Homo sapiens: one gene and its partners. The protein of the gene in region 1 interacts with the protein of each later gene in a biochemical or structural test. Each region holds a gene or a part of one and is shown in the gene's direction. Other genes may lie near its edges. The genes, in order: DGKK, RHPN2, SHROOM4, MAST3 and SNTB2.

Evidence for each region.
Region 2: the proteins of DGKK (region 1) and RHPN2 interact in a test that uses a peptide from one of them, tested with the Homo sapiens proteins (one large-scale study listed by IntAct).
Region 3: the proteins of DGKK (region 1) and SHROOM4 interact in a test that uses a peptide from one of them, tested with the Homo sapiens proteins (one large-scale study listed by IntAct).
Region 4: the proteins of DGKK (region 1) and MAST3 interact in a test that uses a peptide from one of them, tested with the Homo sapiens proteins (one large-scale study listed by IntAct).
Region 5: the proteins of DGKK (region 1) and SNTB2 interact in a test that uses a peptide from one of them, tested with the Homo sapiens proteins (one large-scale study listed by IntAct).

The regions. Positions count from the first base shown.
Region 1 is NC_000023.11:50,380,030-50,384,317, reverse strand, and holds part of DGKK (diacylglycerol kinase kappa), read left to right. Parts: intron 1-53; coding exon 54-150; intron 151-1,714; coding exon 1,715-1,822; intron 1,823-4,240; coding exon 4,241-4,288. UniProt on the Homo sapiens protein: Diacylglycerol kinase that converts diacylglycerol/DAG into phosphatidic acid/phosphatidate/PA and regulates the respective levels of these two bioactive lipids.
Region 2 is NC_000019.10:33,005,498-33,009,785, reverse strand, and holds part of RHPN2 (rhophilin-2), read left to right. Parts: intron 1-1,605; coding exon 1,606-1,772; intron 1,773-4,288. UniProt on the Homo sapiens protein: Binds specifically to GTP-Rho. May function in a Rho pathway to limit stress fiber formation and/or increase the turnover of F-actin structures in the absence of high levels of RhoA activity.
Region 3 is NC_000023.11:50,632,472-50,636,759, reverse strand, and holds part of SHROOM4 (protein Shroom4), read left to right. Parts: intron 1-1,091; coding exon 1,092-3,582; intron 3,583-4,288. UniProt on the Homo sapiens protein: Probable regulator of cytoskeletal architecture that plays an important role in development. May regulate cellular and cytoskeletal architecture by modulating the spatial distribution of myosin II.
Region 4 is NC_000019.10:18,121,594-18,125,881, forward strand, and holds part of MAST3 (microtubule-associated serine/threonine-protein kinase 3), read left to right. Parts: intron 1-91; coding exon 92-180; intron 181-256; coding exon of another isoform or gene 257-259; coding exon 260-329; intron 330-513; coding exon of another isoform or gene 514-534; intron 535-1,079; coding exon 1,080-1,158; intron 1,159-1,623; coding exon 1,624-1,781; intron 1,782-1,986; coding exon 1,987-2,062; intron 2,063-2,345; coding exon 2,346-2,555; intron 2,556-2,671; coding exon 2,672-2,773; intron 2,774-3,048; coding exon 3,049-3,181; intron 3,182-4,288.
Region 5 is NC_000016.10:69,298,418-69,302,705, forward strand, and holds part of SNTB2 (beta-2-syntrophin), read left to right. Parts: intron 1-1,172; coding exon 1,173-1,357; intron 1,358-2,414; coding exon 2,415-2,507; 3' UTR 2,508-4,288. UniProt on the Homo sapiens protein: Adapter protein that binds to and probably organizes the subcellular localization of a variety of membrane proteins. May link various receptors to the actin cytoskeleton and the dystrophin glycoprotein complex.

The DNA.
Region 1 (4,288 bases):
GAAAGGGCTTTTTTGTTTGTATCCGTCACCCAAGTGATGTCTTTTGTGTCTAGGTTCTCGTCGTGGCACTTTGTCTTCTATATCTTCTCTCAAAAGTGAGGACCTGGACAACCTTAACTTGGATCACTTACATTTTACACCTGAATCTATGTAAGTATTTAACTCTATCACCTTTTAATGGCTTCTTTCTTTCTCTTGTTAAGAGCACAATCTTAGGATATCCATAGTCAAATCCTTTCTCTTACTTACTAGCTGTGTCACCTACGCAAGTGACTAAACCAGTGTGAGCCTCAGTTTTCTCATATGTAAAATGAAGACCATTGTAGAACTTGCATCATGGGTTTGCTGTATTTATTACATTTATATATGAAAAGTACTTGCACTGAGTAGTGCTTGGCACCCATAATTAAGTGTTATATGCATTTGCAGTTATTATTGTTATTATTATAAATAATTAATAAATGTTAGTTGTTGTTATTACAGAGGACTTGCTTTTTTTCACTGTTGCCCTTAACAGTAAATGGTTGAAGATACTAAAAACTAAAATGGTCACTAGGGGACTAGGCAGCAAATCTAAGGACATCTGTCTCACCAGTTCTCCCTCTTTAGAATATCGGCAGCAGCCAAGTTCTGCCACACTCACTCATTCTGAGTTCCATTAAGAAGATCAGTTTGGACATTAGTTAGAGAAACTCCAATCTCTGGACTGTGGTTGAGGGAGGCAAATCTCATGTGAGAGATGTAAGGTCAGTATGGTAATGAATAAAAAAGTAATCTAAGATTAAACAGCTAAACTGTATCCATTTAATTTCTCAAAAGGACACAGCTAGAAATTATTTATGTTTTCTTAAATAATTTATTTAAGAAAACAATTTTTATTCCTGTCTCCAACCCGCATTCTTGCCCCCACACTTCACCATTGGCTCAAATTTATGTCTGAGCTCTCATGGATCTACCTAATGAATTTTGATCAATAGTGCACTGGCAAAGTGTTTAACAACCTCCTCTCTTGGGGGAGAAAGCCCTGATTCATTTATGGTGTAAACCCTTCCACCATGGCCTATTTAAGTTAGTGATATAATGCCATTGAATCTGGAGTTGGAAAGAGATATGCATAATCAGTTTACATGAGCTGGTGCCAACTGGCTATGGCACACCACTGGTTTTGATGCTGACACCCTAGATGGACACAGGAGACTTGACAAATAATTTGGCTTTTTTGTTATGTACATATCTACCCTCTTTTATCAGTCTTTCCTTCCAAATGTGTGGTCATTTTCCCCTTTGATGTCGGACATCACTGAGAGCAGTTGTGCAGACTTAACTGTCATGGCACGTTTGTGTCTAGGATATTCAAAAGTTCTTTATAGGAGTAAACAGTATTTCCCTTAATACTACATATGAAGAAAATATGGGCCACTCATACATAAGGCCTCCAAAGATGACTAAAATCATCAATGTTGCTTCTTTATTATGAGTTCCAATCCCACTGAAGCTTCCCAACTGGCGAGGCACTCCCTCTTACAGCTAATAAGCTAGTTGTTCACACAAAAGGATATCTACATGTGCCTCTCAAAAATGTTATAGTTAGTGCCCAGTGTGGAGGGGGCCTTCCCTCACTGGTTTTCCATCATGCAGATTCATCTTCATGCCCAATTGATAGCGGCACTTCTTTCCTGCACCAATGTCTGTCCTCTTCTTTGAATAATTTCAGACGCTTCAAAGAAAAATGTGTCATGAACAACTACTTCGGAATTGGACTGGATGCTAAAATTTCTCTGGACTTCAACACCAGAAGAGATGAACACCCAGGGCAATACAAGTAAGGAAAAGAAACTCCCTTCCCTACATGCAAACACACTATCACAATACACATACGTATTCCTACATTCTCTACCTCTCAGACAAGCAACAGAAAGAAAGGGACCCACTGGAAGTAAAATGCATTGGCCCCAAGACTAGTCTAGCGGGACAGTGTGTGCCAAATTTTGGATGACTGCACTGGCATCCTAAACTTGAGCTGCCTTCAAATCCAGACCTGTGGATTTCTGTGTAAACACAGCTACCTGTGTTACTGTTACTGACAACAGATTATGTTGACTCAATTTAGCAAATCGCCCACCTTTGTTCTGTCTGTGAAAGTTTAACCAGGTTTCAGTAGTGGCTTCAGATCTGTTTTCACTTGACAAAGTTGCAAAGTATCAAACATCCCTCTATTTGTTTTTGGTGTTCCTAACCTGGTTCCCCTGAACCCGTTAATTTTACCCTATCCAGTGTTGGCCTGCATGGCACCTTCTCGCACTTTCATACTTCAGACAAGGCCTAAGTCAGTCTCAGAGTTCTTGTGGTACATTGAAGCTATAAGTAAAAAGTGTGACACCCCACCCCACAACACCCCACCCTTGCCACCACCACTAGAACCTCTTTCTCAAAGCAGGCCTGGGCTGAGAAACAGGAACTTTGTCAGATATGTGATTTGCAAATATTTTCTCCCAGTCTCTTGCTGGTCTTTTCATTTTCTTAGTGGTATCTTTGAAATACAAAAGTATTGAATTCTAAGGCGGTCCAATTGATCAGTTTTTTTCTTTATGGACCATGCTTTTGGTGCCATCTGTAAGAAATCTTTGCCTAATCTGAGATCTTAAAAATTTGCTCCTAAGTTTTCTTCTAAAGTTTGTATTGTTTTAGCTCTTATTAATACATTTAAGTGTATGATCTACTTTGAGTTAATTTTTACGTATAGTGTGAGGGTCTAAGGTAAGAGTCTAAGTTTATCTTTTTGCCTGTGGATATCTAATTATCTCACCACCATTTTAATTTATTTATTTGTTTATTTTTTTTATTTTCTTGGAGACGGAGTCTTGTTCTGTCGCCTAGGCTGGAGTGCAGTGGCATGATCTCGGCTCACTGCAACCTCTGCCTCCTGGGTTCAAGTAATTCTCCTGCCTCAGCCTCCCAAGTAGCTGGGACTACTGGTGCATGATACCATGCTTGACTAATTTTTTGTAATTTAGTAGAGACGGAGTTTCACCATTTTGCCCAGGCTGGTCTCGAATTCCTGAGGTCAGGCAATCCGCCCGCCTCAGCTTCCCAAAGCGATAGGATTATAGGCATGAGCCACCGCGCCCGGATCTAGAGCCATTTTTCAAAACAGCTATCCTTTCCCCAGTGAATCGTGTTGGCACCTTTGTCAAAAATCAATTGACCACAAATGCAAGGGTTTATTTCTGGACTCTCACTTCTGTTCTATTTATTTATGTGTCTATCCTATGCAAGTACCACACTATCTTGATAACTATAGCTTTACAGTAGTTTTTGAAATTGGGAGATGAAAGTCCCCCACTTGATTCTTTTTTTCAGAATTGGTTTGTTCTAGGTATTGTACATTTTCATATACCTAAACTCCTATTTTTGTAGATGAGAACACCAAAGTGCCCAGAGAATGAATGGTTTAAACAGTGTCTCAATAATTTTGTGCTAGCCTTCTGACATTTCAAAACTCATTCCATGTGATGATGGCTCATTTCTGTGGCTCTACTTTACAAGCTCCAAGTAAACTATATCCAGCCTTTCTAGTGATCGTAAGTGCCCCACCTATTTCTATCAGAGATTCCACAGTCAACAAGACGCTGTCCTCCCCACCTCCACCTCAAGTCACCTGATATCCTTTCCTGTCTCCTATTTTTCTCCACTGGCTCCTCCTCTAAAATCTCCCTACAAGCTTAGATCTGTTCCATGGCATTGAATTAGGCATTTAGTATATGGATCTGGTGTTTGGAAAAGTACTTCACTTTGCCAGAAAAGTTGCTGCTTCAAAAAAAATTGCACTCTAAGAGTCACGTGTTTCAAATGAAATTGATTCCAAGCAGCTGAAATCTCCTGGAGTAGCACAACTAGGGTAGCTGGTGTGTACCAGCCAGCTACGCTCATAGCTTTTTATGAGCATTGATGTCTGAATATAGCCTGTTTCTTCCAAGTCTGGACCAATATTGGTAGCAAGCAGAAATGGAAAATTTATTTATTGATAGGATACTGAGGCTTCAAAGGGGCCCAGGAACCCATTTCTTCAAGTGTTTGCATTGGATATCAGTTACATTAACCGCTGTCCAGTTGCCATTTAGCATGACTCCTCTCTGTAAGAAGGCATTTGAGAAGTAAGATGGTTTTCCTTCCTGTCTTTTTCCACCATTTATCTATATATCATTCACCCTCTGCTTTCTTAATGCTTACCTCCATGTAGTAGCCGCCTTAAGAACAAGATGTGGTATGGCCTTCTGGGAACCAAAGA
Region 2 (4,288 bases), on another chromosome or scaffold:
AATAAAAAAAATAAAAATAAAACAAGTCCTAGGCTGGGTGTGGTGGCTCATATCTGTAATCCCAGCAGGTTGGGAGGCCAAGGTGGGTGGATCGCTTGAGCCCAGGAGCTTGAGACCAGTCTAGGCAACACAGTGAGACCCTATCTCTACAAAACAATTAGAGAAAATTTGCCGGTCATGGGTGGTGCATGCCTGTAGTCCCACCTACTTGGGAGGCTCAGATGGGAGGATCTCTTAAGCCCAGGAGGTTGAGGCTGCAGTGAGTCATGATCATGCCACCGCACTCCAGCCTAGGCAACAGAGTGAGACTTTGTCTGAAAAAATAAAAAGTAAAACAAATTAAAACAAATCCTGAGTTTTTAGATTTCAGAAAGAATTATGAGGGGTTAGTAATTGCCATATTTCATTTAGGAGAAGCCATACCGCCTTGGCCTCCCAAAGTGCTGGGATTACTGGCATGAGCCACCGCTCCCAGCCCATTTTTTTTTTTTATAATTGAAGAACTTACCTGACACATCATTATCACCCAGAGTCCATAGTTTCCATTAGGGTTCATTCTTGCACTTGTGTATTCTGTGGCTTTTGGCCAACATAGAATGACAGTGATCCACCTTTGCAGTGTCATACAGAAGAGTTTCACTACTGGAAAAATCCTTTGTGCTCCCCCTCCCTCCCTCCCCCTAAGTCCTGGCAACCCCTGATCTTTCTTCTGTCTCCAGGGTTTTGGCTTTTCAGAATGTTGGAATCACACAGCGTATACAGTAGGTAGCAATGTTCAGGTTGGCTCTTTCACTTAGTAATGTTTCCTCTGCATCTTTTCATGGCTTGCTGGTTCATTTCTCCATTTTTAGTGCTGAGTAATATTCCATTGTCTGGATGTCCCATGGTGTGTTTATCCAGTTACCCCGTCAGATATTTTTGTGTGTGGCTGTGGCGGTCAGTGTGATTAGTCCTGTCATCTTGCTTGGAAACAAAAGCCTCAGTGCACATGCATTCTTGACTTTTACTGAAGAAATGAGTTTGTTGTTGTTGTTGTCGCCCAGGCTGGAGCACAGTGGTGCGATCTCAGCTCACTGCAACCTCCGCCTCTCGGGTTCAAGTGATTCTTCCGCCTCAGCCTCCTGAGTAGCTGAGATTACAGGCGCCCGCCACCATGCCTGGCTAATTTTTGTATTTTTGGTGGAGACTGGGTTTCACCATGTTGGCCACGCTGGTCTCAAACTCCTGACCTCAGGTGATCCACCTGCCTCGGCCTCCCAAAGTGCTGGCATTACAGGCGTGAGCCACCGCACCCAGCCAACCCAGGAGTTTGACAGCAGTTTGGGTAACATAGACCCCATCTCTACAAAAATTAAAAAAAAAAAAAAAGGCAGGTATGGTGGCATGCACCAGTAATGCCAGCTATTCTCATGAGGCTGAGGTGGGAGGATCAACTGAGCCCTAAAGTTGAAGGCTGCAGTAAGCTATGATCACACCACTGCACTCCAGCCTGGGCAACAGAGTGAGATATTGACTCTTAAAAAAAAAAAAAAAAAGAATTTTTTCCACTTGTAGCATTAACTAGCCAAGTAATCTGTATTCTCGGAATGCATTTCTTTCACATAGGTATGACTCTCTCACCGGGGTTCCGGTCAGCCAGCAGAACCTGCTGCTGGAGAAGGCCAGTGTCCTGTTCAACACTGGGGCCCTCTACACCCAGATTGGGACCCGGTGTGATCGGCAGACGCAGGCTGGGCTGGAGAGTGCCATAGATGCCTTTCAGAGAGCCGCAGGTATGTCTCCTCCAGGGCTGACCAGACGGAGCCTTGGCCCCACCCGGTGGCACCAGGGGACCCCCCACTGAAGAGAATCTACAGGTCATCCCTCGCAAGGGCCAGACCAGTCTCCAGCTCTGGTGTAACTTCCCATTAAGAAACTTGCTCCGGCCGGGCGCGGTGGCTCACGCCTGTAATCCCAGCACTTCGGGAGGCCAAAGCGGGTGGATCACAAGGTCAGGAGATCGAGGCCAGACTGCATCTCAAAAAAAAAAAAAAAAACTTGCTCGGTGGTTCAGACCTCAGTCTGGGATGGCTGATGTACATGGTGAATCCTGTGGCTGACGATCTTTTCCAGACAAGTGGCCCCTGGGATGGCAGTGCATAACTGTTTCTTTCAACACTGTCATGAAGAGCAGAATAACTTTTCCCAAATAGTGAAACTGTAGGCTTCTTTTTCTTGTATTAGGTGTACCTTATCAGTGCGTATTACTCTCCGTGCCTTTATTTATTTATTTATTTATTTATTTATTTATTTATTTATGAGATGGAGTTTTGCTCTTGTTGCACAGGCTGGAGCGCAGTGGCATGGTCTCGGCTCACTGCAACCTCCACCTCCTGGTTTCAAGCAATTCTCCTGCCTCAGCCTCCTGAGTAGCTGGGATTACAGGCACCCGCCACCACACCTGGCTAATTTTTGTATTTTTAGTAGAAATGGGGTTTCGCCATGCTGGCCAGGCTGGTCTCGAACTCCTGACCTCAGGTGTTCCGCCTGCCTCAGCCTCCCAGAATGCTGGGATTACAGGCATGAGCCACCGCACCCTGCCCCTCCATGCCTTTATATCACCTGCATTCTGCCAACTTCTCCAGCATGAGGTGGGTGTTCTCAACCCTTTGTCAAGTGATGCATTCAAAGGATGTCTCATAGCTCAGTTCCCTTCTTCTGGGAACTGTCTTTTGTTATTTTATTTTATTTATTTGTTTATTTTGAGATAGAGTCTTGCTCTTGTCACCCAGGCTGGAGTGCAGTGGCACAATCTCTGCTCACTACGACGTCTGCCTACTGGGTTCAAGTAATTCTTCTGCCTCAGCCTCCCAAGTAGCTGGGATTACAGGCGCCTGCCACCATGCCTGGCTAATTTTTGTATTTTTAGTAGAGATGAGGTTTTGCCATGTTGGCCAGGCTGGTCTCAAACTCCTGACCTCAGGTAATCTTAGTATGAGAATGAGGTGCGGTGTTGAGGAGAAAAGCAGCCTAGTGCTTACACCTATAGAGGACTGGGGTCAACAGACCCAGCGCTGTGGGTGAGCCTGGCTTGGCTCACCTGTGCCTGCGGGTTCTGCCTTGCTCCCCCATAGCAGGGCTGTGTCTGGGTCAGACTCCACGTGGGGATGGATGCAAGAGCAGGGCACAGTGTAGACCACAGTGTGTTCCCCACGCTAGCTCTATAGCGTGTTGCCTTCTGGGCTGATCATCGACATTCTGCTTTGGGGTGTGATCCCCTTCCACCCGTGTGGATCATTGTTTGATATCACTTTGCCCTGCAAGCTTGTGAAGAACCATAGCTTTGCCACTTTGACTCATCGTGAAATTTCTGATGTTATAATGATTGGTCCTACCAGCCTGGGCCACACAGGAGGACCCCATCTCTACAAAATATTTAAAAATTAGCCAGGCGTGGTGGTGTATGCCCGTAGTTCCAGCTACTCCAGTGGCTAAGACGGGAAGATCACTTAAGCCCAGGAGTTTGAGGCTGCAGTGAGCTATGATTGCACCACTGTACTCTAGCCTGGGTGACAGAGTAAGACTCCATCCCTAAAAAGAATTTTTTTTTTTTAAATTAATGAAATAGGCTGGGCATGGTGGCTCATGCCTGTAATCCCAGCACTTTAGGAGGCTGAGGTGGGTGGATTGCTGGAGCCCAGGAATTTGAGATCAGTCTGGGCAACAAGGCGAAACTCCATCTCTACAAAAAGTACAAAAGTTAGCTGGGCCTGGTGGTGCATGCCTGTAGTCTCAGCTACTTGGGAGGCTGAGACAGAAGGATCAGCCGAGGTTGTGGTAAGCCAAGATCGCGCCATTGCACTCCAGCTTGGGCGACAGAGCAAGACCCTGTCCCAAAAAATAATTAATTAATTAAAAAAATAAAAGATTGGTCTATCGGGATGAAGCGATATGCTAAGATTCCAAGTATGAGTTGATTTCTTTTGCTGTAAATCTTTTTTCTGGACTCATCTTTCTGAGGAATCTTAGGCAGGCACTCTGTGTCCTGTCTCTGAGATTATATCAATGGAGACAAACTATAGACGAAATGAAGCAAGTAGGAGAACAGTGGGGAGTGTGAGGGAACCCCCATGGAGCTCGCAGCTCAAAACAGCAGGTGCCATCCCTCCGCAGGGCAGGGCTTTTTTTTTTTTTTTTTTGCTCAGCAACAAAACCAGAGGAACCAGTTGGATGGGATTCATATGAGAGATTCTATTTCAGTTCCAGATTGATTGTCAGTTAGCGCTTTGGACAGTTAATTTTCTAAACT
Region 3 (4,288 bases), 250 kb from region 1:
TACCTCTCTAAGCTTAAGATTCTTCCATTGTGAAGTGTAGATAATAATCTGTCCCATAAAGATGGGAACAATAGACACTGGAGAATACAAAAGCAGGGAGAAAGGAAGTGGGACAAGGGTTGAAAAACTACCTGTTGGGTACTCTGCTCACTTCCCAGGTGATGAGTTCAATTGTACTCCACACCTCAGCATCATGTGATATACCTTTGTAACAAACCTGTACGTGTACCCCCGGAATCTAAAATAAAGGTTGAAAAAGAAAAAAAAAGATCTGTCCTCTTCAGCTTGAAATGAAACCTTGTAAAGTGTCCGGCACATTGTAGGTCCTCAGTAAATAGTCAGGATTGCTATTATCAAGAAAAGAATAGGGGAACACCTGAATTACAGCCCTGTCTGTGCCAGTAGTTAGAGCTGGGTGTTCTTGAGTAAATCACCATCTCAAAATCACTTCCCTTTGCTGGGCTTGCTTTACACCAGTGGTTCTCAAAAGTGTGATTGCTGGATGAGCAAGCAGCCCCAGCAGCACCTGGGAAGTTGTTGGAAGTACAAATTCTCAGGATTCACCGAGACCTAAAGCTCTAGGATGAGGACAAGTGACCCGTGTTTCAACAAGCCCTGCATGTGATTCTGACGCACATGCTCAAGTTTGAGAATCACTGATTTATTTACAAAATGGTCCGGCTAAAACTGAATCAGCCCTTTAGGGCCCCTCTCTAATGCTGATATTCTGTGATTGTCTCTTTTGGCAGGGAGCCACATGCTGACTCCCTAGGGACAGGGACAGCCTAGAAGCAATTTCAGACTTGCTAATGTCAGGGAAATAGAGGATAACCCCCATAGAGCTCTCCCACTTTTAGTCTTTGGGGTGTTTCCCCATCTTTTTTCCATATATCATCTTGTGTCCCATTTTACTAAGCCCCTGAGGCACCCCAATGTCCATCTTCTTCCCTGTTTCCCTTTCTTCCCCCTTTTTTTTTTTTGCCTACCCTCCTCTCTTTTGTGGCATGGGTACCTCTGGGCTGGCCTGCCCTCTCCTATAGTAGGGCTGGCCATGACTTCGCTAACTAACCAGTATGCCCTGTGTCTTACAGTGACGTGTGTGTGCAGTGGTGTCCACTCTCCCGGCATTGCAGCACCGAGAAAAGCAGCTCCATTGGCAGCATGGAGAGCCTGGAGCAACCAGGCCAAGCCACCTATGAGAGCCATCTGTTGCCTATTGACCAGAACATGTACCCTAACCAGCGTGACTCAGCCTACAGCTCCTTCTCGGCCAGCTCAAATGCTTCTGACTGTGCCCTTTCCCTCAGGCCAGAGGAGCCAGCCTCTACAGACTGCATCATGCAAGGCCCAGGGCCAACTAAGGCCCCCAGTGGCCGGCCTAATGTGGCTGAGACCTCAGGAGGTAGTCGGCGCACCAATGGGGGCCACCTGACCCCCAGCTCTCAGATGTCATCCCGTCCACAGGAGGGATACCAGTCAGGGCCCGCCAAAGCAGTCAGGGGCCCACCACAACCTCCAGTGAGGCGGGACAGCCTTCAGGCCTCCAGAGCCCAACTCCTCAATGGAGAGCAGCGCAGGGCATCTGAGCCTGTGGTCCCCTTGCCACAGAAGGAGAAACTGAGCTTAGAGCCTGTGCTACCCGCAAGGAACCCTAATAGGTTCTGTTGCCTCAGTGGGCATGACCAAGTGACAAGTGAGGGCCATCAGAACTGTGAGTTCAGTCAGCCTCCTGAATCCAGCCAACAGGGCTCTGAGCATCTACTGATGCAGGCCTCAACCAAAGCTGTTGGATCCCCAAAAGCCTGTGACAGAGCTTCCAGCGTGGATTCCAACCCACTCAATGAGGCTTCTGCAGAGCTAGCTAAGGCTTCTTTTGGCAGACCTCCACATCTCATAGGACCCACAGGGCATCGCCATAGTGCCCCTGAACAGCTGCTGGCATCCCACCTGCAGCATGTGCACCTTGATACCAGGGGCAGCAAAGGGATGGAGCTCCCACCCGTACAGGATGGGCACCAGTGGACTCTGTCCCCTTTGCACAGCAGCCACAAAGGGAAGAAAAGTCCATGCCCCCCTACAGGAGGAACCCATGACCAGTCCAGCAAAGAAAGAAAGACCAGACAAGTGGATGACAGGTCTTTAGTTTTGGGACACCAGAGCCAAAGCAGTCCCCCACATGGAGAGGCTGATGGACACCCCTCAGAAAAAGGTTTCCTGGACCCAAACAGAACAAGCAGAGCAGCCAGTGAATTGGCCAACCAGCAACCCTCTGCCTCTGGCTCCCTTGTTCAACAAGCCACGGACTGTTCTTCAACCACTAAAGCAGCTAGTGGCACAGAGGCAGGTGAAGAAGGGGACAGCGAGCCCAAGGAGTGCAGCCGGATGGGTGGTAGGCGAAGTGGAGGGACCCGGGGCCGCTCGATCCAAAACCGGCGGAAGAGTGAGCGTTTTGCTACCAATCTGCGTAATGAAATTCAGAGGAGGAAGGCCCAGCTCCAGAAAAGCAAGGGTCCCTTGTCACAGCTGTGTGACACTAAGGAGCCAGTGGAAGAGACCCAGGAGCCCCCAGAAAGTCCTCCACTCACTGCCTCTAACACATCTCTTCTATCTTCATGTAAAAAACCTCCCAGCCCCAGAGACAAGCTCTTCAACAAAAGCATGATGCTCAGAGCTAGGTCTTCCGAGTGCCTCAGCCAAGCCCCTGAGAGCCATGAATCTAGGACAGGCTTAGAGGGACGAATAAGCCCTGGCCAGAGGCCTGGCCAGTCCTCTTTGGGCCTGAACACCTGGTGGAAAGCACCTGACCCATCCTCCTCAGACCCTGAGAAAGCACATGCTCACTGTGGAGTCCGTGGAGGTCATTGGAGATGGTCTCCAGAGCATAATTCACAGCCACTTGTGGCAGCAGCCATGGAAGGCCCTTCCAACCCAGGTGACAACAAGGAATTGAAGGCTTCTACTGCTCAAGCTGGGGAGGATGCCATCCTCTTGCCTTTTGCAGACAGAAGAAAGTTCTTTGAAGAGAGTAGCAAATCCTTATCTACATCTCATTTGCCAGGTTTAACCACTCATAGCAACAAGACTTTTACCCAGAGACCAAAACCTATAGACCAAAACTTCCAGCCAATGAGCTCCAGCTGTAGGGAATTGAGGCGCCATCCCATGGACCAATCATATCATTCCGCAGACCAACCATATCATGCCACAGACCAATCATATCATTCCATGTCACCCCTTCAGTCAGAAACTCCCACTTACTCAGAATGTTTTGCAAGCAAAGGTCTAGAAAATTCCATGTGTTGTAAGCCACTACACTGTGGTGATTTTGATTACCACAGGACCTGCTCTTACTCCTGCAGTGTTCAAGGAGCTCTAGTCCATGATCCTTGCATTTATTGTTCTGGGGAAATCTGCCCTGCCTTGCTAAAGAGAAATATGATGCCAAATTGCTACAACTGCCGGTGCCACCACCACCAATGCATTCGGTGTTCAGTTTGCTATCATAATCCTCAGCACAGTGCCCTCGAGGACAGCAGCTTGGCACCTGGCAACACTTGGAAACCCAGGAAGCTGACAGTGCAGGTGAGGACTTGGTTCTTGGGTGGGTAACCTTCATTATTGTCTTTGAGAGGGGAAAGCTACGTAAATTATTTAAAAATATAACAATTATAATTCCTTGAAACTGTACAGCACTGGCTTCAGTAGTTGTTAGCTTAGTAACCTTGAAAAAGATACTCAGCCACCAAAATTGCAGTTGTCTCATCTTTAGGGTTAGATAAAAGTAACTTTTGCTTCATAAAATGGGCACAACTGAGATTTATATCCTGACTATAAAATTGATATCTGAGTGACCCAAAGCAAGTCATTCAACCACACAAATTTGAAGTATGTAATTCTAAAGGGAAAAAATAATTTTTCTGTCATAAAATAGCCAGTATTAAGAAGAGTCTCACTACCTCATCTCTAAAATGGAGGAATATCATGGCCGCCTCATGGATCACTTGTGAGAATCAAATCAGATTGTGTCTATGGAGTTCTAGGCCCAGTGCATGATACAAAATATCACTTATTGCCTCCCATTTTCTACTTCAGAAGTATTTAGAGATGCAAAACTTGCAAATATCCCCAGGCTTTGCTTTCAGAGATCTGACTTGTTGGGTTTTTAAAAAGACAAATCCTTTCCCCTTTCTCCATCCTGTCTCTGTTGGAGACCCAGGTCTAAACTGGCTGCTCTTATATCCCGGTTATGACCTATTACCATAACACAAGCTACCACCATCCCCCAGGC
Region 4 (4,288 bases), on another chromosome or scaffold:
AGAACGGGCTGCGAGTGTGATTTAGGCTGGGCAGGTGGCTTAGCGCGGGGCCCTGGGCAGCCACCTACCCTGTCCCCTTTTCCCCCCACAGCTGCCGCAGCGGGAACCGCAAGAGCTTGGTGGTAGGAACGCCCTCCCCGACCCTCTCCCGGCCCCTGTCGCCATTGTCGGTCCCAACGGGTGAGTGTGGGAGCAGCCAGCGGGTGCTGTGTCCTGCCTCTGCCCCGCTGACTCAGTTTCCCCGCCTCCTCCTCAGCAGGCAGCAGCCCCTTGGATAGTCCTCGGAATTTCTCGGCTGCCTCTGCCCTAAATTTCCCCTTTGCCCGGAGGTGAGTGATTGCCGGCTTTGGGAGACAGTGCGGGCACCACGGGCAAGGGTTGGGCAGGGGCACGTGCTCGGTGGCTAGACCTGGCTCCTCATTCATTTCATTCACCTTTTCCCCTCCCCTGGCCCGTCTGGTGGTGGTCTCCCCCTCTGGCTCCCATTCCCGGCAAATGCATGCCATCTTGCAGCCACATCCCACGCATGGACAGGTAATTTCAACCAGCCCAGGGGGTGGGGGGTCATGGGGGGATATAGCCCTAAGAATCATTAACTCACTAAAGAAATCATTCATTCATTCACTTAACAAGAGCTGATTGAGCACCTGTCATGTGCCAGACGCTTGCATTTCATTTATTTATTCATACAACAACATTCATTAAGCACCCACTGTGTGTATGCTCTGTGCTGCGGGCTGAGGGCATGGTCGCAAATGGGCAGCTGGCCCTGAGCCCCTGGGGAGTCCTCCGTTTGGTGGGGGGTGGTCAATGTGTGCCCCAGAAGCTACAGCTCAGAGGTTGAAGCTTTGACAGGGGACACAGTGGCAGCTGGACTCACGGGGGGGCTTCCTGGAAGAGGTACCTAAAGAGAGAGAGCATGCAGTGGACTTGGTCAGCCTGTGTCTCTGTTCTTGGTTATTTTCAGGAGATCCTTCCTACAACAGGGCCAGAATATGCTGGCCACAGTGTCTGTTCTTAGTCCCCACAAACCACAGGGGCCAGGCCTTCCTTCCATCTGTTCTTGTTCCCCTCTCCAGGGCAGACGGCAGAAGATGGTCCCTCGCGTCTCTCCCATCTTCCGGCTATGGAACCAACACACCCAGCTCCACCCTCTCGGTACCCATAGCCCCACCTTGGCAGGTGGACAGGCAGATGCCGGGTTGTGGGGGGACACATCTTTGTGTGTTTTTTTCAAGGTGTTGGATAGTTGTGCAGTCAGCAAACATACTAGTTACTTCCTCCATGCACGCCCCATTCTGGGAAATGCAGGGTCCCCTGAGAAGACCCAGCCTTGGCCCCAAAATAGTCCCTGGTTGGGGAGATACAGATATCCTCAGCCTATGGGGTCAGGGCCTGACCAGAGGGGGACTTGGGGCTGCCCAGGGGTACAGGCAGAGAGGACTTCCTGGAGGAGAGGGCATCAGAGCTAGGGTTTTGAGGGATGCATAGGAGCTAGGCAGGAGAAAGGATGTTACCTTCTGATGGCCAGCAGGCAGCCTGGGCCTTGAGGGGTGGTGCTGGGTTCCTGGCCACAGCACTGACGGTGAACTCATGGCTCTGATCCCCACCACTCTCTACCAGTCAAGCTCATCCTCCCGGGAACGTCTCCACCAGCTTCCCTTCCAGCCGACGCCGGACGAGCTGCACTTCCTGTCCAAGCACTTCCGCAGCTCAGAGAATGTGCTTGATGAGGAAGGCGGCCGGTCACCCCGCCTCCGACCCCGCTCTCGCAGTCTCAGGTGGGCCGCGACCTCTGGCCCCAGCCCCGGCCCCTCCCTGGGCTGGTGTGGAGGCCCAAGTTGTGGCTCCTCCTTCACCCCAGCCCTGACCCTGCCTGAGCCTAGCCTCTGATTCTTGTCCCTCAACCCTGGCTCAGATCCCCCAACATCCTCCCCTGGGGTTGGTCTCAGGTCCCATATCACAAGCCAGCTGTCTTCCTTTCAGCCCGGGCCGTGCAACGGGGACCTTCGACAATGAGATTGTCATGATGAATCACGTGTACCGGGAGAGGTTCCCCAAGGTGGGCAGCGCCTGGCGGCTGGACCAGCCCCTGCACTTCTTTCCACATTGCTGTCCCTCCATGGAACTCTGTCTTCCTGGCTATGTCCCCTTTGCCAGTCTGTTCATTTCTGTCTTTCCTTCCCCTTCCGTTGAAAGATGTCGTTCCTCCTGCACCAGCCCTCCCACCCGATCGCCCCATTGCCCCATCTCCTCTCTCCCCAACCATGCCTCTCCTGCCCCATTCTGCGTGTGTCACTCCAGCCCCGCCCTCTGACCAGGTCGCCCCGTCTCGCCCCACCCAGGCCACAGCACAGATGGAGGGCCGTCTGCAGGAGTTCCTGACGGCCTACGCGCCCGGCGCCCGGCTGGCGCTGGCTGATGGCGTCTTGGGCTTCATCCACCACCAGATCGTCGAGCTGGCCCGAGACTGCTTGGCCAAGTCTGGCGAGAACCTCGTCACCTCCCGCTACTTCCTAGAGATGCAGGAGAAGCTGGAGCGGCTTCTGCAGGATGTGCGTGGTTTTTCGCATGTTGAGGTTTTGCATGCAGTGGGACGTGGAGTGAGGGGGGTCCCCAGGCCAGACGGTGCTGAGGACCTGTGGGTGATGCCACGACCCACCTCCCCCAGGCCCATGAGCGTTCGGACAGTGAGGAGGTCAGCTTCATCGTCCAGCTTGTCCGGAAACTGCTGATCATCATCTCACGGCCAGCTCGGCTGCTGGAGTGTCTGGTAAGTTTCTCTTTCTACGGCCAGCTTGGGGTCCAGGCAGAACTGAGATTGGGACCACAACAGTCCTGCCAAGATACAGGTGACAGTTCCCATCGTGTAGGGCTTTGAGAGGAACACAGGGTGCTATTGGGCTAGCGTGGGCTTCCCTAAGGAGGCAGCGGGAGTGGAGACCCAGTGGGTGAGCTGGGAAGGGTGCTCCAGGCAGAGGGAACAGCATGTGCAGAGGCCTGCAGGTGGAACCAAGCCCTGGGTGACCAGCCCTCCTGTGCCCCTAGGAGTTTGACCCTGAGGAATTTTACCACCTGCTGGAGGCGGCTGAGGGCCATGCGCGGGAGGGCCAAGGCATTAAGACTGACCTTCCACAGTACATCATTGGGCAGCTGGGCCTGGCCAAGGACCCCCTGGAGGGTAAGCCGGGATGGGAAGAGGAAACCAAGGCTGGGAAAGGCCGGATGGAGGCCAGGCACGGTGGCTCACACCTTTAATACCAGCACTTTGGGAAGCTAAGGCGGGCAGATCACTTGAGGCCAGGAGTTCGAGACCAGCCTGGCCAACATGGTGGAAACCCCCCCCCTACTAAAAATACAAAAATTAGCTAAGTGTGGTGGCGCATGCCTGTAATCCCAGCTACTCAGGAGGCTGAGGCACAAGAATTGCTTGAACTCAGGAGATGGAGGTTGCAGTGAGCTGAGATCGCGCCACTGCACTCCAACCTGGGCGACAGAGCGAGACCCTGTCTCAAAAAAACAAAAAAAGAAAGGGCAGATGAAGCCAGGATTCAAACCCAGGCCCATCCGATTCCAGAACCACCGCACTGTTCTTTGTCTCTCTGTGGCCTTGCTCTTAGGTCACCTGTGGGAATTATGCTGAGACCCTCTGATCTTTTGGGGCCCAGGGGCCTCAGTGTCCTCAAATGCCACGTTAAGATGGTCAGGAAGCCTGGGGACCAGTGTTAGCAGTGGCCTTCCCTTTGTCCTGCAAATTCACAAATGACTTTACCAATTTCTGTGGCCTTTACTGTGGCCCAGAAAGTGAACTTGGAGTCAAACAGGACAACCCGTAGGTAAGAAGACGGTCAAAAACTCCCACAGCCGGCCGGGTGCGGTGGCTCACGCCTGTAATCCCAGCACTTTTGGGAGGCCGAGGTGGGTGGATCACAAGGTCAGGAGTTCAAGACCAGCCAGGACAACATGGTGAAACCCCATCTCTACTAAAGATACAAAAATTAGCCGGGTGTGGTGGCGTGTGCCTGTAATCCCAGCTACTCGGGAGGCTGAGGCAGGAGAATCATTTGAACCCTGGAGGCGGAGGTTGCAGTGAGCCGAGATCACACCACTTCATTCCAGCCTGGGCAACAGGGCAAGACTCTGTCTCAAAAAAAAAAACAAACAACTCCCACAGCCAGCCAGGTGCAGTGGCTCACGCCTGTAATCCCATAATCCCAGCACTTTGTGAGACTGAGGCGGGTGGATCACTTGAGGTCAGGAATTCAAGACTAGCCTGGCCAATATGCAG
Region 5 (4,288 bases), on another chromosome or scaffold:
GAAAGGCCTCTCTGCCTTTGCTCCTTTGGTTGGTCCTTCTTGCCCAGTTCAGTCCTTCTGCCTCTTCCTCCCTGCCTGTCCAGTTTTACCAATTCTTTTTTTTTTTTTTTTTTTTTTTTTTGAGACAGTGTCTCGCTCTTGTCACCCAGGCTGGAGTGCAGTGGCGTGATTTCATCTCACTGCAACCTCTGCCTCCCAGGTGCAAGCAGTTATCCTGCCTCAGCCTCCCAAGTAGCTGGGATTACAGGCATGTGCCACCATGGCTGGCTAATTTTTGTATTTTTAGTAGAGACGGGGTTTCGCCATGTTGGCCAGGCTAGTCTCTAACTCCTGACCTCAAGTGATCCGCCCACCTCGACCTCCCAAAGTGCTGGGATTACAGGTGTGAGCCACCGTACCCGGCCAGTATTACCAATTCTTTAGGGCCTATCTGAAGGCCCATCTCCTCCAGGAAACCTTTTCTTGACTTTGGCCTCATTCACTTTGGTGTTTGCTCATGTTCTGTACATTCTGCCTTACACAATTGGGGATTTCCTGTCTATGCCAATGAGTTTACAAAGTCCTTGAGAGCAGGGACTGTGCCTCTTACTTCTCTAGTGCCTTGCACAGCCTACACACACTTGCCAGTATGAGTGTTCAGTGGGTACTCGAGGAATTAAATCGAACAGATGTCAAGGAGTGTTATGGTCATTTCTGCCTCATCTCAGTGACCAAAACAAAACACACTTCTTTTTTTTTTTTTTTTGAGACAGTCTTGCTCTGTCGCCCAGGGTGGAGTGCAGTGGTGCAATCTTGGCTCACTGCAACGTCCGCCTCCCGGGTGCAAGCAATTCTCCTGCCTCAGCCTCCTGAGTAGCTGGGATTACAGGCACCCGCCACCACACCCAGCTAATTTTTATATTTTTAGTAGAGACGGGGTTTCACCATGTTGGTCAGGCTGGTCTCAAACCCCTGACTTTGCGATCCGCCTGCCTCGGCCTCCCAAAGTGCTGGGATTACAGGCGTGAGCCACCACGCCTAGCACAAAACACACTTTAGAAGTTTCCATACAGGTTAGGTATCACACATTCTCAAGAAAATATTTTTCCTATTTTGAAGTCAGAAGATTCCCTTTTCACTTGATAACTGACATAGCAACTTTACAACTAATGTTTTTTGCTTTTCTTCAACAGGCTGCATGTTAAATGGCCAAGAGGTGAGGCTTACTATTCACTATGAAAATGGGTTCACCATCTCAAGGGAAAATGGAGGCTCCAGCAGCATATTGTACCGCTACCCCTTTGAAAGGCTGAAGATGTCTGCTGATGATGGCATCCGAAATCTATACTTGGATTTTGGTGGTCCCGAGGGAGAACTGGTAAGAGTGTTTCTGAAACACATGTTTATCTAATAGATGTTCTCTTTCCTTCTCATTACTTCTTACCCCTTATATACAAAGTCATGGACTGACATTCCATTTAGAACCATGAAATTTTAAATTAAAAAAAATTTTTTTAAAGATGGGGTCTCTGTCACCCAGGCTGGAGTGTAGTGGTGCAATCATAGCTTCCTGCAGCCTATACCTTCTGGGCTCAAGTGATCCTCCCACCTCAGCCTCCTGAGTAACTGGGACTGGACTATAGGTGTGTGCCACCATGCCTGGCCAATTTTTTATATTCTTTATAGAGATGAGGTCTCGCTTTGCTGCCCAGGATGGTCTTGAACTCCTGGCTTCAAGTGATCTTCCCATCTTGGCCTCCCAAGGTGTTGAGATTACAGGTGTGAGCCACTGTATCTGCTCTTCTTCAGTTTTCAAGATGGCATTGGGTGTTGGTTTTTGTTGCCGTCATTTTTCTTTTTTTTTTCTTTTTTGAGACGGAGTCTCGCTTTGTCGCCCAGGCTGGAGTGCAGTGGCACCATCTCAGCTCACTGCAACCTCTGCCTCCCTGGTTCAAGCAATTCTGCTGCCTCAGCCTCCCGAGTAGCTGAGATTACATGCACGTGCCACCATGCCTGGCTAATTTTTCGTATTTTTAGTAGAGATGGGGTTTCACCGTGTTAGCCAGGATGGTCCCAATCTCCTGACCTCATGATCTGCCCGCCTCAGCCTCCCAAAGTGCTGGGATTATGGGCGTGAGCCACCGTGCCTGGCCTTAGATTTTAAATCCTCTACTATTTAGTTCTTCCTACCAGGCATGGTGAAACCCAGTACACCACCAGTTGTCTCCTAATTGGGGATGTGAAACCTCACACCAGTATTATGACATGGAATAACCTTACTCCATAGTGCACTTTTGCCTGTGGCTTTAAGTTCCTAAGAGTTTCCATAGCTCTGGCACATTCTTTACCTACCTTAAATTTATTTTGCATCTTCGTTTATTAAGTTGTCTGTATATGGTAGTGAGGTAGTGATGCTTAGTGTCCTTTCTCCACAGACCATGGACCTGCACTCTTGTCCGAAGCCGATTGTATTTGTGTTGCACACGTTTTTATCGGCCAAAGTCACTCGTATGGGACTGCTTGTATGAGCAACAAAAAATCAGAAAAGAGCCTTGACTGTCACAAGAAATATTTCCACCTCAAAAAAAAAAAAGCACAAAAAGAAACTCTTTGCTCTCCTTCAGCACAGTGCCTTCCCAAGGACCTGCAAATAACTGCTGAACCATAACCGTGTTTAAAGAAGAGCCTACCTTTCACAGTCTACCTTGGCCAGATATTCTAGCACTCTAAAAGGCTCCAAAATGAAGCTGTTGATTTATTCTCATTTCAAAATATGGTTTATGAGTAATTAGGTTTATTTCTACTGCTAAAAAGAATGGCTCATTGTTTTCTTTTTTTTTCATTGTTTTCATTTTTAGACATAATCAAATACCCAAGCATTGTTTTCTTTTTCTTCTCCCTGTAGGATTTGTGTTGTGCTTAGCCTTGATCTCTTGTTCAGAACAATTGTCCCTTCCCAGGTGCTAGCTTGCAGCAGCCTGTTGCTTCCTGAGCATTCCAGATAGGTCGTATGTCTTGGAATTTACTGTCCTCACTAGCTCCTTCCACCATAGGAAGTCCTTGAATTGTATCACCAAAGGGTTGTTCCATTTGCCCTGGATCTCCCTCTATCTCAGCCTGGCCATCACTTCCCACCTTATCCCAAGCTTTGCCACTGTCTCTAGGACTTAGAACTTGTAAATTTGATTTGCCTTGCCTTCTACTTCCTTTCTAGTGGTGACTGAGTTGAAAAGCAAGTTGGAAGCCACTGCTTTTAAAGAAAAGTTTTGCTTGGTTTAGGTTTTTCCAATTTTATTTTTGTTAGGAGCCAGGGGATAAGATTTATTTTAAATGAAAATCCTCTTCCTAGGTTAAGCCATTTTTTTTATTGCTTACCAAATGTGCCTTTGGTTAGGGTTAGTGGAGCTTTATTAGTCACTATTTGAATAACTGGAAATCACTGCCATTTCCAGGAGATCACCTATCCTAGTTTTGAGGAATAGTCATTGAGGTGGGTTTCCTTAATGGCATCTCTTCTAGTAGGCAGATCTGTTTGAACAAGATAAATCCTAAAGAGCCAGCCTGCTTGAGGAGTAGACTTGGTGGGTGAAGCCAGCAATTCCGCACAAACGTCATGTTGAATTGTTTTGGGCTGCCCAAAAACAACAGGATGCAGCATCCTGGCTGTGGCCTGGCCCTTTGTGGCAGCAGTGGCATGGACAAGCAACTGCTAATTCGAGACTTACTATTGGCTTCACAGCACACCCTACAGTGAGCAGGGTGATGAGACCGTGGAACAGCTACCTGCTTTTGGTTAAGATTGCCAGATATCATTAGGACACAGTAGCAGCAAGAATGCTGATTTTGTAGTGTTAGAAAATGAACTCAGCTTGTTTTTCCTAATTTTGAAGGTGGTATATATCTGCAAACATTTAAAATGGTATAATATCATATAAAATGTCAAAATTAGCACAGTCCCTGGATCTCAAAGAATAGGTAATATTGACTTGGATGTTCTTTATGCTCTCTGAAGAAAGGTCTAGGGAAAGTTCTTGTTTGCTTGATTGATCAAGAGTGCCACGGAAGAATGTGAGCGCTGTGGAGGGTGGAGGAGGGTGTCACTTCAGATGGGGCAGGCACAGGGGGAGAAAAGAAGAGAAAAACACACCTGTGTGCAAAATGAGCTATTTGGTTTCAGTGCGGCCTGACCGATGGGGAGGACCCATGAGCAGAGAGAGTTCTAGGTCAACATTGTAACTCCATTGTCCTCCTTCACCCATAAGTCAGTCCTCCTTCCTCATTACAGTGAAACCAACAATATGCAGAGGTT